Homo sapiens: one gene and its partners. The protein of the gene in region 2 purifies or fractionates together with the protein of the main gene of each other region. This does not show direct contact. Each region holds a gene or a part of one and is shown on either strand. Other genes may lie near its edges. The genes, in order: C17orf75, AIFM1 and APOOL.

Region 1 (3,752 bases), on a different chromosome or scaffold from region 2:
GGGAGATAGAGGTGAGGATACCCATTGCGAATGAAGACATGGCAGTAACTTCTGCAATACAATCTTTTAAGAATCTGACTGCTATACTCACTTGTTCATCAAATGAGTACCTTTATTGCAAGAGAAGAAACTGTGCTATCCACTTTGATATGGAGAGGCAATTTGGAATCTCTGCCATAATTGCTTAGGACTGAGGATTTAATGTGCTATTTTGTGAAAATCTGAGAAGCAGGAAGGGGATTTAACGATCTCAACTGTTATCCATCTGAAAAACCTAACTTGTAATTTTAAATGAAATGGCAGGTTGCCTTCCACTATTCCTTTTTAAAAATAGGAACTGCCCCTGCTTTTAACTTTATGAAGTTTTATTTATGAATAAAGTTTGCACTACTAAAAATAAAAAAAAAAAACACAAAACACACGCATGCACACACACACGGTGGCTTAAAACAATGGAAATGTATTATTTCACAGTTCTGGAGGCTGGAAGTTGACATGGAGGTGCTGGTGGGGACATACTCTCTTGAAGCCTCTAGGGGAGAATCTGTTCCATGTCCTCTCCTAGCTTCTGGTGATGACCATCAATCCTTGACATTCCTTGGTTTGTAGATACATCACTCCAGTCTGCCTCCTCCTTCACGTGGCGCTATGGTTTGAGTGTTTGTCCACTCCCAAATTCATGTTGAAATGTAATTGCCATTGTAAGACTATTAAGAAGTGGGGCCTTTAAGAGCTAATTATAAATTGCCCAGTCTTTGGTATCCTTTTATAGCATCATAAAATGGACTGAGACAGAAAACTGGTACCAGAGAATGGGGTGTTGCAGAAACAAACACCTGAAAATGTGAATTGGTGTTAGAACTGGGTAATGGGCAGAGACTGGAAGGGTAGCTGGCATTACAGGCGTGAACCACCACACGTGGCTAATTTTTTTGTACTTTTAGTAGAGACACAGTTTCACCATGTTGCCCAGGCTGGTCTTGAACTTCTGACCTCAAGTGATCCGCCTGCGTCGGTCTCCCAAAGCACTGGAATTACAGGCGTGAGCCACCGTGCCCGGCCTTTTAGTTTTTACGTAGTCATTTTTTTAAACGTTTTCCTGTATGACTTCTAAGTGTTTTGTTATGTTTGGAAAGACCCTCTTCAAGAATTAACAAAATTATCCCATATTTTCACTTTAACAAAATTCATTTTAAATTCTTAACTTTTTGATCAAACGGGTGTCTGTGCGTGCTGGCACGCGCGCAAGGAGGCAGACGAGTAGCCTTATTCTTTTCCATGTGGCTAGGTAGTTGTGCCACCTTTATCACATAGAAAGTTTCCCAGATGTCTCAAAGGAAAATAAGTTCAAAATAAATGGTAAAAGCTTGTCAGTAAAGGCGAACTCAGTACGCCTGTCAGCCCCTGTGGGGAGAAGAGACTCCCTTTCCAGGCCAGTCCTTGCCTGCGAACCCGGGGAAACCAGCGGAACGCAGGTGTGCGAGGGCCGGGAGCCGGACGAGCCCTGATACCGACGGCTGCACGGGAGCAGGGGAGCGGTTTGGCGGAGACACAGGGCCGCTCAGAGGCCGCCGCAATGCTCCCCTCTTTGCAGGAGTCGATGGATGGAGATGAAAAGGAACTAGAGAGCAGCGAAGAGGGAGGCTCAGCCGAGGAGCGGAGACTCGAGCCGCCGTCCAGCAGCCACTACTGTCTTTACAGCTATCGCGGAAGCAGGTGCTGGCGCCCAGCTCGGCCTGCCAGCCCGCCCGCCCCTGCGGCCCCGCCCCCGGCCCGCCGCCCGGCCTTGCACCCCACCCCCGGCCCAGCGGCCCGGCCGCTCCTAAAAGCCATCTTCTCCTCTCCCAGCCAAGGTCTCTGGCCTGAAGGGCGCTCCTCGCCTCCCGCTGCTCTTCCTGGCCCCCGTCGTGGACTTGTATGCCTGGCCCAACCATGCCTGTGCCCTTCATCTGCCCCTATATCATCCCAGCCTCTTACTCTCGCGGCTGCCCTTTGTTTAGCGCAGTGCCCCGCATGCTCAATAATTTCAGTTCCCGTCCCCTCTCCTTTCTGTCATTATCTCCCCACTTCTCCCATTTCTGTCACACACACCCCCATCCCCACCCTCTGGTTTTCCTCTGTTCTTGATTCCTCTTTTTCCTCCTTCTGACTTTCCTGGAACCTTCTTGGCCTTGTCAAGTTTGGTTTTTAAAGGAGTTTCCTTGAACCTTCTGGGTATTTAGCCTTTCCTCCACCCGTTAAGTGGCCTGGAGAGAGAAGGGGCTCTTGTCAGCACTGCTGTATGGGTTTTCCTTGTCATGAGGATAGGCAGTGCACTTCCACCTTGCAGCATTTTTAGTTGACTCCTTGCCTTACCCTGCTTGCCAGGCCCCCATACTCCTCTTGGTTTAGAGCCCATAATTGATAGCACTATTGGTTTTGTGGCTTGTAGATTGGCACAGCAACGAGGGGACAGTGAGGACGGAAGCCCAAGTGGCACAAATGCAGAAACTCCCTCTGGTGATGATTTCAGGTAAAAAGAGCTTCAGCATAATTCATGCATGTGCTTTCATCTTCCCTGCATCTCTGGCCTGTACATGTCAGTGGATACTCTATTTCCACTGAGCTTTCCCTGAGTCAAACCGTCAATTCCTCCTATCCCCTAGGAACCTCATCCTGATTTCCTCATTGGCTGGTTCATTCAAGGCTGGGGCAAACAAATCCACATACTGATAGTGTGCTTGGTGATTAGCCAAAAAGAAATCCTTTTTTTTTCTTTTTCCTTTTAAATTGAGACAGGGTCTTGCTCTGCTGCCCAGGCTGGAGTGCAGTGGCATGACTTTGGCTCGCTGCAGCGTCAACCTCCCCGGCCTCAGGTGATCCTCTCACCTCAGCCTCCCCAGTAGCTGGGACTACTGACCACCACGCCTGGCTAATTTTTGTATTTCTGGTAGAGATGGGGTTTCACCATGTTGCCCAGGCTGGTCTTGAACTCCTGGACTCAAGTGATCCGCCCACTTCTGCCTCGCAAAGTGTTGGGATTACAGGCATGAGCCACCTTGCCCAGCCCTGAAAAATTTTTTTTTTTTTTTGAGACAGAGTCTCCCTCTGTTGCCCAGTCTGGAGTGCAGTGGTGCGATCTCAGCTCACTGCAAGCTCTGCCTCCCGGGTTCACGCCATTCTCCTGCCTCAGCCTCCCGAGTAGCTAGGACTACAGGCACCCACCACCACGCCCGGCTAATTTTTTTGTATTTTTTTTTAGTAGAGACGGGGTTTCACTGTGTTAGCCAGGATGATCTCTATCTCTTGACCTTGTGGTCCACCTGCCTCGGCCTCCCAAAGTGCTGAGATTACAGGCGTGAGCCACTGCTCCCGGCCCCAGCCCTGAAATTTTTAAATCATCAATTATACCTCAATAAAGTTGAAAGATAAAAAAGATAAGAATGTGTGCAGGGGTGTGATTATAATGACTGACCATGGAATTAAGGCAGAATAAGGAGGGAAGTGAGATGAGAAACTTGAGAGACTGAAAAAGAGGTAGGGTCAGTGGATTGGGGGTTCCAGTGGAGTCACAGTACTGGAGAGAATGAGCTGGAAAGATAGGAATATTTTAAGCTATTTGATGAGGTAGATCATACTTAGTGACATACATTCCTAGAAGCCTCACCAATAGGGGTCATAAGGACAGCTTTCCCCAGTCCTTAAAAGAGCCCCTGGCGTTGGTACCATTCTGTCTGACTTAATGGGTGTGAATACCCTAGTCCACTGGTAAA
Region 2 (3,752 bases):
CACGGAGCCTGACCACATCAATACTTCTTAGTATGTACTCTCTATCATTGTCCCCCGAAAATGTGCTGGGTTTTGGTTTTTTAAAACAGTTCCAAGCCTTTTCATTTAACAAACAGCATGGTGCTTCCTCTAAGACACTTTACAAATATTAGCTCATTTAGTCTTCCGAACACCCTCCTGAGATTTGTAGATGAGGAAAATGAGGCACAATTAAGTGACTTGCCCAGGTGGCAGAGCCAGGATTCAATGTGGGTTGGTCTGGATCCAAGGTCAACATGTTTAACAATGAAAAATGTTATCTTTGGTCCGAAAGTATTCACCATCTGAAATATCAATCCTTTTCCTCTACTGTTTGAATTTTACTACTCATCCTTCAAGACACAACTCAAATAACTTCTTACACGAAGTTCTACCATAGTGATTCCATCCCATAGTCTTCTCTCTTGCTCTGTCCGGCACTACACCAGATATTATTTCAATGACCGGTATATGTCATCTCCCCAACTAGACAGTGGCCACTTCCTATATAGATGCTATGTCCAAATAAACCCATTGTAAACTGAAAATATCGTTAAGTCGAAACTGCATTTAATACCCTGATAAACCCATCATAAAGTCAAAAAACCGTAAGTTGAACCATGCTTAAGTCCAGATGCTCCTCGACTGACATGGGGTTAGGTCTCATTAAACCCATCATAAAGTCGAAAAATTGTAAGTCGAACCATTGTGAGGGGTAAGTCGGGGACCATCCGTACTTTTCATACCCAACAGAGCCCCTTTTATAGTACAATCCAAGAGGTAAGTGCTCAATAAATACTTGTTAAATGAATATGTAAGCTGAATCTTTGAAACAGGCACATTGTATGTTCTGCATGCAGCCAAAACATTATTTCCAATTTAGCTTATATCTGGCAGAGTCAAAACACTTATTTACACTCAGCCCCTCACCCTACTCCCATAACTGAAAGTTCTGCTTAGCAGACTTCTCTTCCCAGAAAGTCCGAGAAGCACGAACGCTTTTTGCTAACATCCTGCTCCCAAGCACAGAAACCACAGCAGGAGACTGTGTGTATCTGTAGCACCTGGTATACAGCATCTAGGACACACAACTGAACTAATAAATAAAGGTGACAGGCGGGAAGAAGAGCGCAGAATTACTTGTCCAGGAAACGGGTTGGGTGGGAAAGAGCCGGCAACTGGTAAAAGATGGAAGTACACGCCGGATCTGGGAAGCCAGGTTCCGCGCCTCGGACTCATGGAAAAACTGGATCTGGATCACTGCAAAAGAATCAGGAAGGCTTCGGTATCAAGTAACTGGTGTCCTAAAACCAAAAAACAAAGTGCGATGCCGGGGCTACGCTGTTGTGAGATGCTGTTATCAGTTCTCGTCACCAACACAGCGGCAGCACCAGGCACAACCGCCAATCAAAGCGGCCCCACGAGTCCCTCCTTGAACAGGTTCCTTAACTCGTTCAGTCCAACACTGTGCCACAAACTCGCGAAAACCGGCTACCTAGAGCCAGCGTCTTTGCGAGCTTGCGGCCAGCTAGTGCATGCGCAAATCCTCTCGCCGTGCGGACCAATCGCAATGCGGCAGCGAGTGCTACGCCTGCGCAGTAGGCCTCCGGTCGCCGTTCCCCTTCCCCGGCTCTAGCAGGCCGGCTTCTCTGTCCAATGCCCACCCGGAGCTGGGAGGAGGAGTCTGCGTAATGTGCGTGTGAAGAGACTGGGGGAGCTGGCCGGGGCTCACGGTGTTTGACCCGTCGGTCGTGCGTGAGAGGAAAGGGAAGGAGGAGGTCCCGAATAGCGGTCGCCGAAATGTTCCGGTGTGGAGGCCTGGCGGCGGGTGCTTTGAAGCAGAAGCTGGTGCCCTTGGTGCGGACCGTGTGCGTCCGAAGCCCGAGGCAGAGGAACCGGCTCCCAGGTGACTGACCCATTCCAGGCAACCTCCAAGTCCGAGGGCCTGGCGCCTTAGGCTCCCTGTGCCTTGCAGCCCTCTACCCCCGCGTCCCCGCGAGAAACTTAACACATAGTCACGTGAATTCCAAATTGGCAGACTCCGAACCCTGAGTCTTGCAAGCGGAGGAATTGGCTCAGCCATGCCGACCTGACCTTCAAGAGATTTGAACCCAGTAGTCGGCTTGAGGCCTTTTCCCGGGAGCGTTTGCTGTTCAGGGATCCCAGAACAACTGGCTGTCGGCGCCTCCCCGGCATCCCCACCCCCCACCCCCCTTTTTAGAGCAATGAGGTCAAGTAGACTTTGTCATTTACCGATTGAGACTTTAAACAGGACGTTTAAGCCCTACGCCTAAGTTTCTTGTGTAAATGAGGGTGTTATCTGCTCAGCCTTCCAAACCACAGATGAGATCCATGGATTTGAATGCCCAGTGAAACAGAAACGGTGCAGGGCAAGTAAGGAGTCGGTTGGTTGTGTACCAGACACCCAGAGAATTGGCCCAGACTTAATTGGAGATGCCTGAGCCGTGTACTTCTTGGTGGTCTTTAAGGCTTCAAAGAAACAGTTTGCAGAACGCATTGTATTTTGTTCTCCATTAAGTTGTTTCATCAAATTTTAGAGCTGGAAGGGATTTTGTGGTAAAGGTCAACCCACTCATTTTATAGATAATAAACTGAGGCACAGAGAGGTGAAATTACTTGCCAAAGGTCACATAGTTAATTAATAGGTAGAGCTAAGGATAGTTTGCTAGCCTCCAGGTCCTTAATCCCTTCGCTGCAACTCCATACTGCTTCCTAAAGTTGACCTCAAAAAGTTAAGAATGAATTCGGGTCTCTTCCCAGTAATTAGCCCATTGTACATCAGATATCCGTGAATTTATCTGAGCATGGCTTGAGCCTGCTTCTTTTCGTACTGCGTTACTTCATGGGGGCAATGAATGATCCACCTGTAGGAGTTGCTTTGAAAAAAAAATCAGTAATCCTTCAATGTCCACCCCTAGGGCATTTGCAATGTCAGAAGTTATCCTTGAGGCTTTTACAATACAGAAACACCTGGGTGCTTTAAAAATAAAAAGTGGAAAATATTTTCCTTGGGTTGTTAGGGTCTTTGCAAATGTGCATTTGAACAGTTTTTCCAGTTGCTATGCACAATGAAAATGTTTCCTGATAGGTGTATTTGAGTTATGTCCTGGGACATACTGCTCTTGGAACTTAAAACCTCTGCTTAGCTTTTAAACTAATGCCTTATCAATGGATGTCATCTTTGAGGGTTTTGTGTATTGAAATGATGGTGCTCTGTGCTTGTTGCACAGAAATTGAGATAACCTGAATTTTTTTTTTTTTTTTTTTTGAGACGGAGTCTCGCTTTGTCGCCCAGGCTGGAGTGCAGTGGCGCGATCTCGGCTCACTGCAATCTCCGCCTCCCGGATTCACGCCATTCTTCTGCCTCAGCCTCCAGAGTAGCTGGGACTACAGGCACCCGCCACCACGCCCGGCTAATTTTTTTTTTTTTTTTTTTGTATTTTTAGTAGAGACAAGGTTTCACCATGTTAACCAGGATGGTCTCGATCTCCTGACCTCGTGATCCGCCCACCTCGGCCTCCCAAAGCGCTGGGATTACAGGCGTGAGCCACCGCGCCCGGCGATAACCTGAATTTTTTCATCCACACTGGCCTTTCAAACTTTGAGTAGTTGTTTTGCTTAAGTCTCACAACTTTTACCAGCATTCTAAAGTCTGACCAAAAGTTCTCATCAATTAAATATGCATTTGCAAAGTTAAGTTGATTTATTAGACA
Region 3 (3,652 bases), about 45 Mb from region 2:
ACTTTAATGCTTAGCCTTCAATCAGCAATATCCATCAGCAGAGTGGTGGAGTAAGCTGATGCAACACTAATGTTTCATTATCATCACATAAACATCATTGTGTTAGCATCTCCAGTGTCAGTATCTTAATGTTGGTACCAGTGTTTTCATCATTCTAACCTAGTAACCATGCGACTTTTCCCCAAATATAGCCTGATGGTGAATCATTGTTCTTTTTAGTTTCTATCCATTATCTTTAAAAAGAAATCTAATGAACTTATGAAAAATAATTTGTGCTTAGGTGAAATACCAAATCAATGAACTCTGGTAATTCCAGATAATATTTCAAATATCTGATAAGTACATGATGTTATTTTTGAAAACTTGTGTTTGTCATACAATTCTTATGGTACTAGTTGTACTACACACTATTAATAGTTTGATCTAAGAGGGAAATACCTTAACCAATTATGGTCTGAATCATGCCCCTATGACTATGTGCCAATAGCTAGATGATTCAGACTTAAGCCTCCTGAGATGTAATTTTCCATAATGTTCTGAAATTTTTCTTCAGTGAGATAAAATGTTCCTGAGAGGTCTTTAAATTGCTATTGTAACTGTCATCCAATTTAAGATTCAAAAGAATGTTTTATTCCATTAATATGCTCAAACAAATAGGTTGAAGAAAGGCAATTTCCAGTGCATTTTGTCCTAAATGTAAACAATTTTTTTTCCTAATTTTCCCCTAAAAATGTAATCCATTCTTTAAAAATTATGTCTGACTCAAATTCGTTCCACATTAAAGCTTGAATCATGTAGAGCAAATTCAATTTCTACTCCTGCTAGCTTAGTGTTTTGAAATTTAGGTAGCACTGACCCCATGTGGTAAAAATGAATTCCTTAGCAGAGCTAAGAAAAATTTTTTTTGAAAGATGACTAATTTTCTTCCTTAATGGTTAAATGATTCCCAATCGACTGGTCAATAGGTATTTTAACTTTGAAGGTGAAATATTCTCAAGACAGTCCCTACAGAAAAGTAGTTCAATAGCAGTTAGCGTTTATGCTGATTTGTACAATTTTAAACCAAGATGAACCTCTGCATCTCTCTGATAACCATTAAAATATGTAAGACAAAATTACAAAACCAAGCTATCTCTATAACAAAAACTTATTTCTTCCCTGTCCAATATAATAATATCTGTTTTCTCTGCTTTGAAAGTCTCTTTTGTTCTTGTTTTTATCCCATGGTTTCATAGCAGCTAGTTCAGAGAAGGATTGTGTTTTCTGGTTCCATCAACAGAGTACAATATGACCACGAGTAAATCATTTTGTGACTTCCTTTTTTTTCTTATCTAAGTGAGGTAATACCTAGCACTCAATAAATATATTTAACACTCTTTTGCACTAAAATAAATCAGTTAGAAACAGGTAAAGTTAAAGATTTGCTTTAAAACTTTAATTCCTCTGATGTATTAACATAGTTTTGATTTCTAGAGAATTTATGTTCCGATTTAAAAACAGGATAAACACTGGTCTATGTAGGATGATTTCTGTCCTGAGGTAATTTAGATTTTTTTCTCATTCTAATGCACACTAAGAAAAGGGAGGAAGATGAAGCCCTTTGCTTTAGGCTTTTTGCTCTTTTTTTCCCTCCACAAATCATTATGTTGTTGCTATTGCAACTTTATTAATCAGATGTTGCTTCTAAACTGAAATATACCTCCCTTCTTCTTTATTTAAATTCCATTTATTTTTCTAGGTCATTATAAAATAAGATGATAAATATTTTTTTCAGTATCATTTCTGCTCTGATTATTTCATAGGCACATTATCCATTTATATGAGAAAAATGATATAAATGTTATCCATGTTAAATAGAATGAAAAGCAGGAAATGAAAACAAGCTGGTAGTGAATACATAGGAAAGCTGGATTTAGATTTGGGCATAATGTTAAGTCAACCTTTTAATATAATCTCAGAGATGCAGGCAATTTTATCTCATTATCAACAGCTTCAAAAATGCAGATGTCTTCCCCCCCTTTTTTTTTGCTTAGGGTGTTTATGTCTTTGTGAAAAATGGGATAATGGATACAGTACAATTTGGAAAAGGTAGGTGAGTAGATAATTAGAAATGTTTTATTGTGTTTTTAAATTGCATTGTTTAAATGTGAGAAAAATAAACTTGGTATGTTACCCATTATCATGCATTTACCAACTCAGAAGGTACTCTCTATAGCAATTTATTGATTAATTTATTGATTATTTGTTGATTATTGATTAATAGCAAAGCAGTAATATTCATTATTCAGCAGTTATTATTGGCTAAGGTGTTGTACTTAGCATTTTACATAATTTTTGTCACAATTATGTTAGTATTGGTATTATAATTATTCCCATTTTACAGATGAGGGCAACTGAGGTTTAGGAAGGTTAAGTAGGTTATCGAGCTTACGTAACTGTAAGTGGTAGTGCCAGGATACAAACTGAGGTCTGTTTTAACTACAAAGTCTATATTATATATCATAAAGCATAAATTAAAAACATGTCTCCATTGTTGCTAATTAGTTTAAGTGCTACTTGCTGTTAAAATACATTGTATTTTGCTGTCAATTGCTAGGAAATGTTATAGCAATCACTAACCCTGGAATATTTAAGCTAATGGTTAAAAAGCAATTATACTTGACTCTTTAGCTTGTTAATGGTGTTTGGCAACAGATATAGCTTTGTAATATTCTTGGCTTATGCCAGTTGTCATAATAAATATGTATAGGAGATAGAAAGATGAGCTAAAATGTTGAATGTTTCCATGAAGTTGATGACCTGTATTTGAATTGTCATTATTTAATGTATTAGGAATAAATTCAAAATTATATTCCTCATCAATCATGAGGAATAGGATTAAATATGTGATTGCCATTAAATAATTAACTATGATAGAAAAGTGTACTTTTGGAACCAGAAACAAATTCAACATATAGAAAGCCAAGAACTACTCTTCATCTACTTTTTGTCTAGGCTCACTGATGATTGACTTTAACCAACAGCAGTGGCTGTCCTGAGGTTATTAGGGAGTAGTGGCAAGCAAGGTCTAGTAGCTGTGTATATCCTTAAACTATTATTCAAAACTCCTTAATAAAGTATCTATTTCATTTCTTATTGGAGGCTACCAGTGTTTGAACAGATAAGGGCAGAAGTTCATCATAGAGATATAATACATACGCAGTCAGAAATTTACCTTATAGTAACCCATATTAAGATGTGCCCTCTAGCATTACATTTCTTTATAGTAATAACCGTCAGTATCATTAGGAAAAGAAATATTAAATCAGCTACGGAAGGAAAATTTTATTTTGTAACAAGTAAATATATCTAGTTTTTTAGCTTGCTACTCATATTGTCATTATATGTAGCTCTTTTGAAGAATATTTAAACCTCATTATTATCTTAGCAAATCTCTTTAACCTTCCTGCATTATAACTGTATAGAATATCCAGTAGAATTCAGTTATTCATGTTAATTTTTAACTGATTTCTTGAGATGCTTATGTCTATCTGAAGAATCCTCCTCGAGATTTTCTTCCGAAAATGGGAGTTATTACAGTTTCAGGATTGGCGGGCTTGGTTTCAGCGAGAAAAGGTAGGGTTTTAAAAAATATATTCTCTCTTAATGCCAT

The links.
Region 1: the proteins of AIFM1 (region 2) and C17orf75 purify together in Homo sapiens (affinity purification with mass spectrometry; 2 studies listed by BioGRID and IntAct, with this or other methods). This does not show direct contact.
Region 3: the proteins of AIFM1 (region 2) and APOOL purify together in Homo sapiens (affinity purification with mass spectrometry; 2 studies listed by BioGRID and IntAct, with this or other methods). This does not show direct contact.

The regions. Positions count from the first base shown.
Region 1 is NC_000017.11:32,339,964-32,343,715, reverse strand, and holds the start of C17orf75 (protein Njmu-R1), read left to right. Parts: upstream 1-1,542; 5' UTR 1,543-1,576; coding exon 1,577-1,716; intron 1,717-1,762; exon of another isoform or gene 1,763-1,915; intron 1,916-2,431; coding exon 2,432-2,512; intron 2,513-3,752. UniProt on the Homo sapiens protein: As component of the WDR11 complex acts together with TBC1D23 to facilitate the golgin-mediated capture of vesicles generated using AP-1. May have a role in spermatogenesis.
Region 2 is NC_000023.11:130,163,723-130,167,474, reverse strand, and holds the start of AIFM1 (apoptosis-inducing factor 1, mitochondrial isoform AIF precursor), read left to right. Parts: upstream 1-1,633; 5' UTR 1,634-1,818; coding exon 1,819-1,924; intron 1,925-3,752. UniProt on the Homo sapiens protein: Functions both as NADH oxidoreductase and as regulator of apoptosis.
Region 3 is NC_000023.11:85,052,311-85,055,962, forward strand, and holds part of APOOL (MICOS complex subunit MIC27 precursor), read left to right. Parts: intron 1-2,033; coding exon 2,034-2,088; intron 2,089-3,516; coding exon 3,517-3,615; intron 3,616-3,652. UniProt on the Homo sapiens protein: Component of the MICOS complex, a large protein complex of the mitochondrial inner membrane that plays crucial roles in the maintenance of crista junctions, inner membrane architecture, and formation of contact sites to the outer membrane.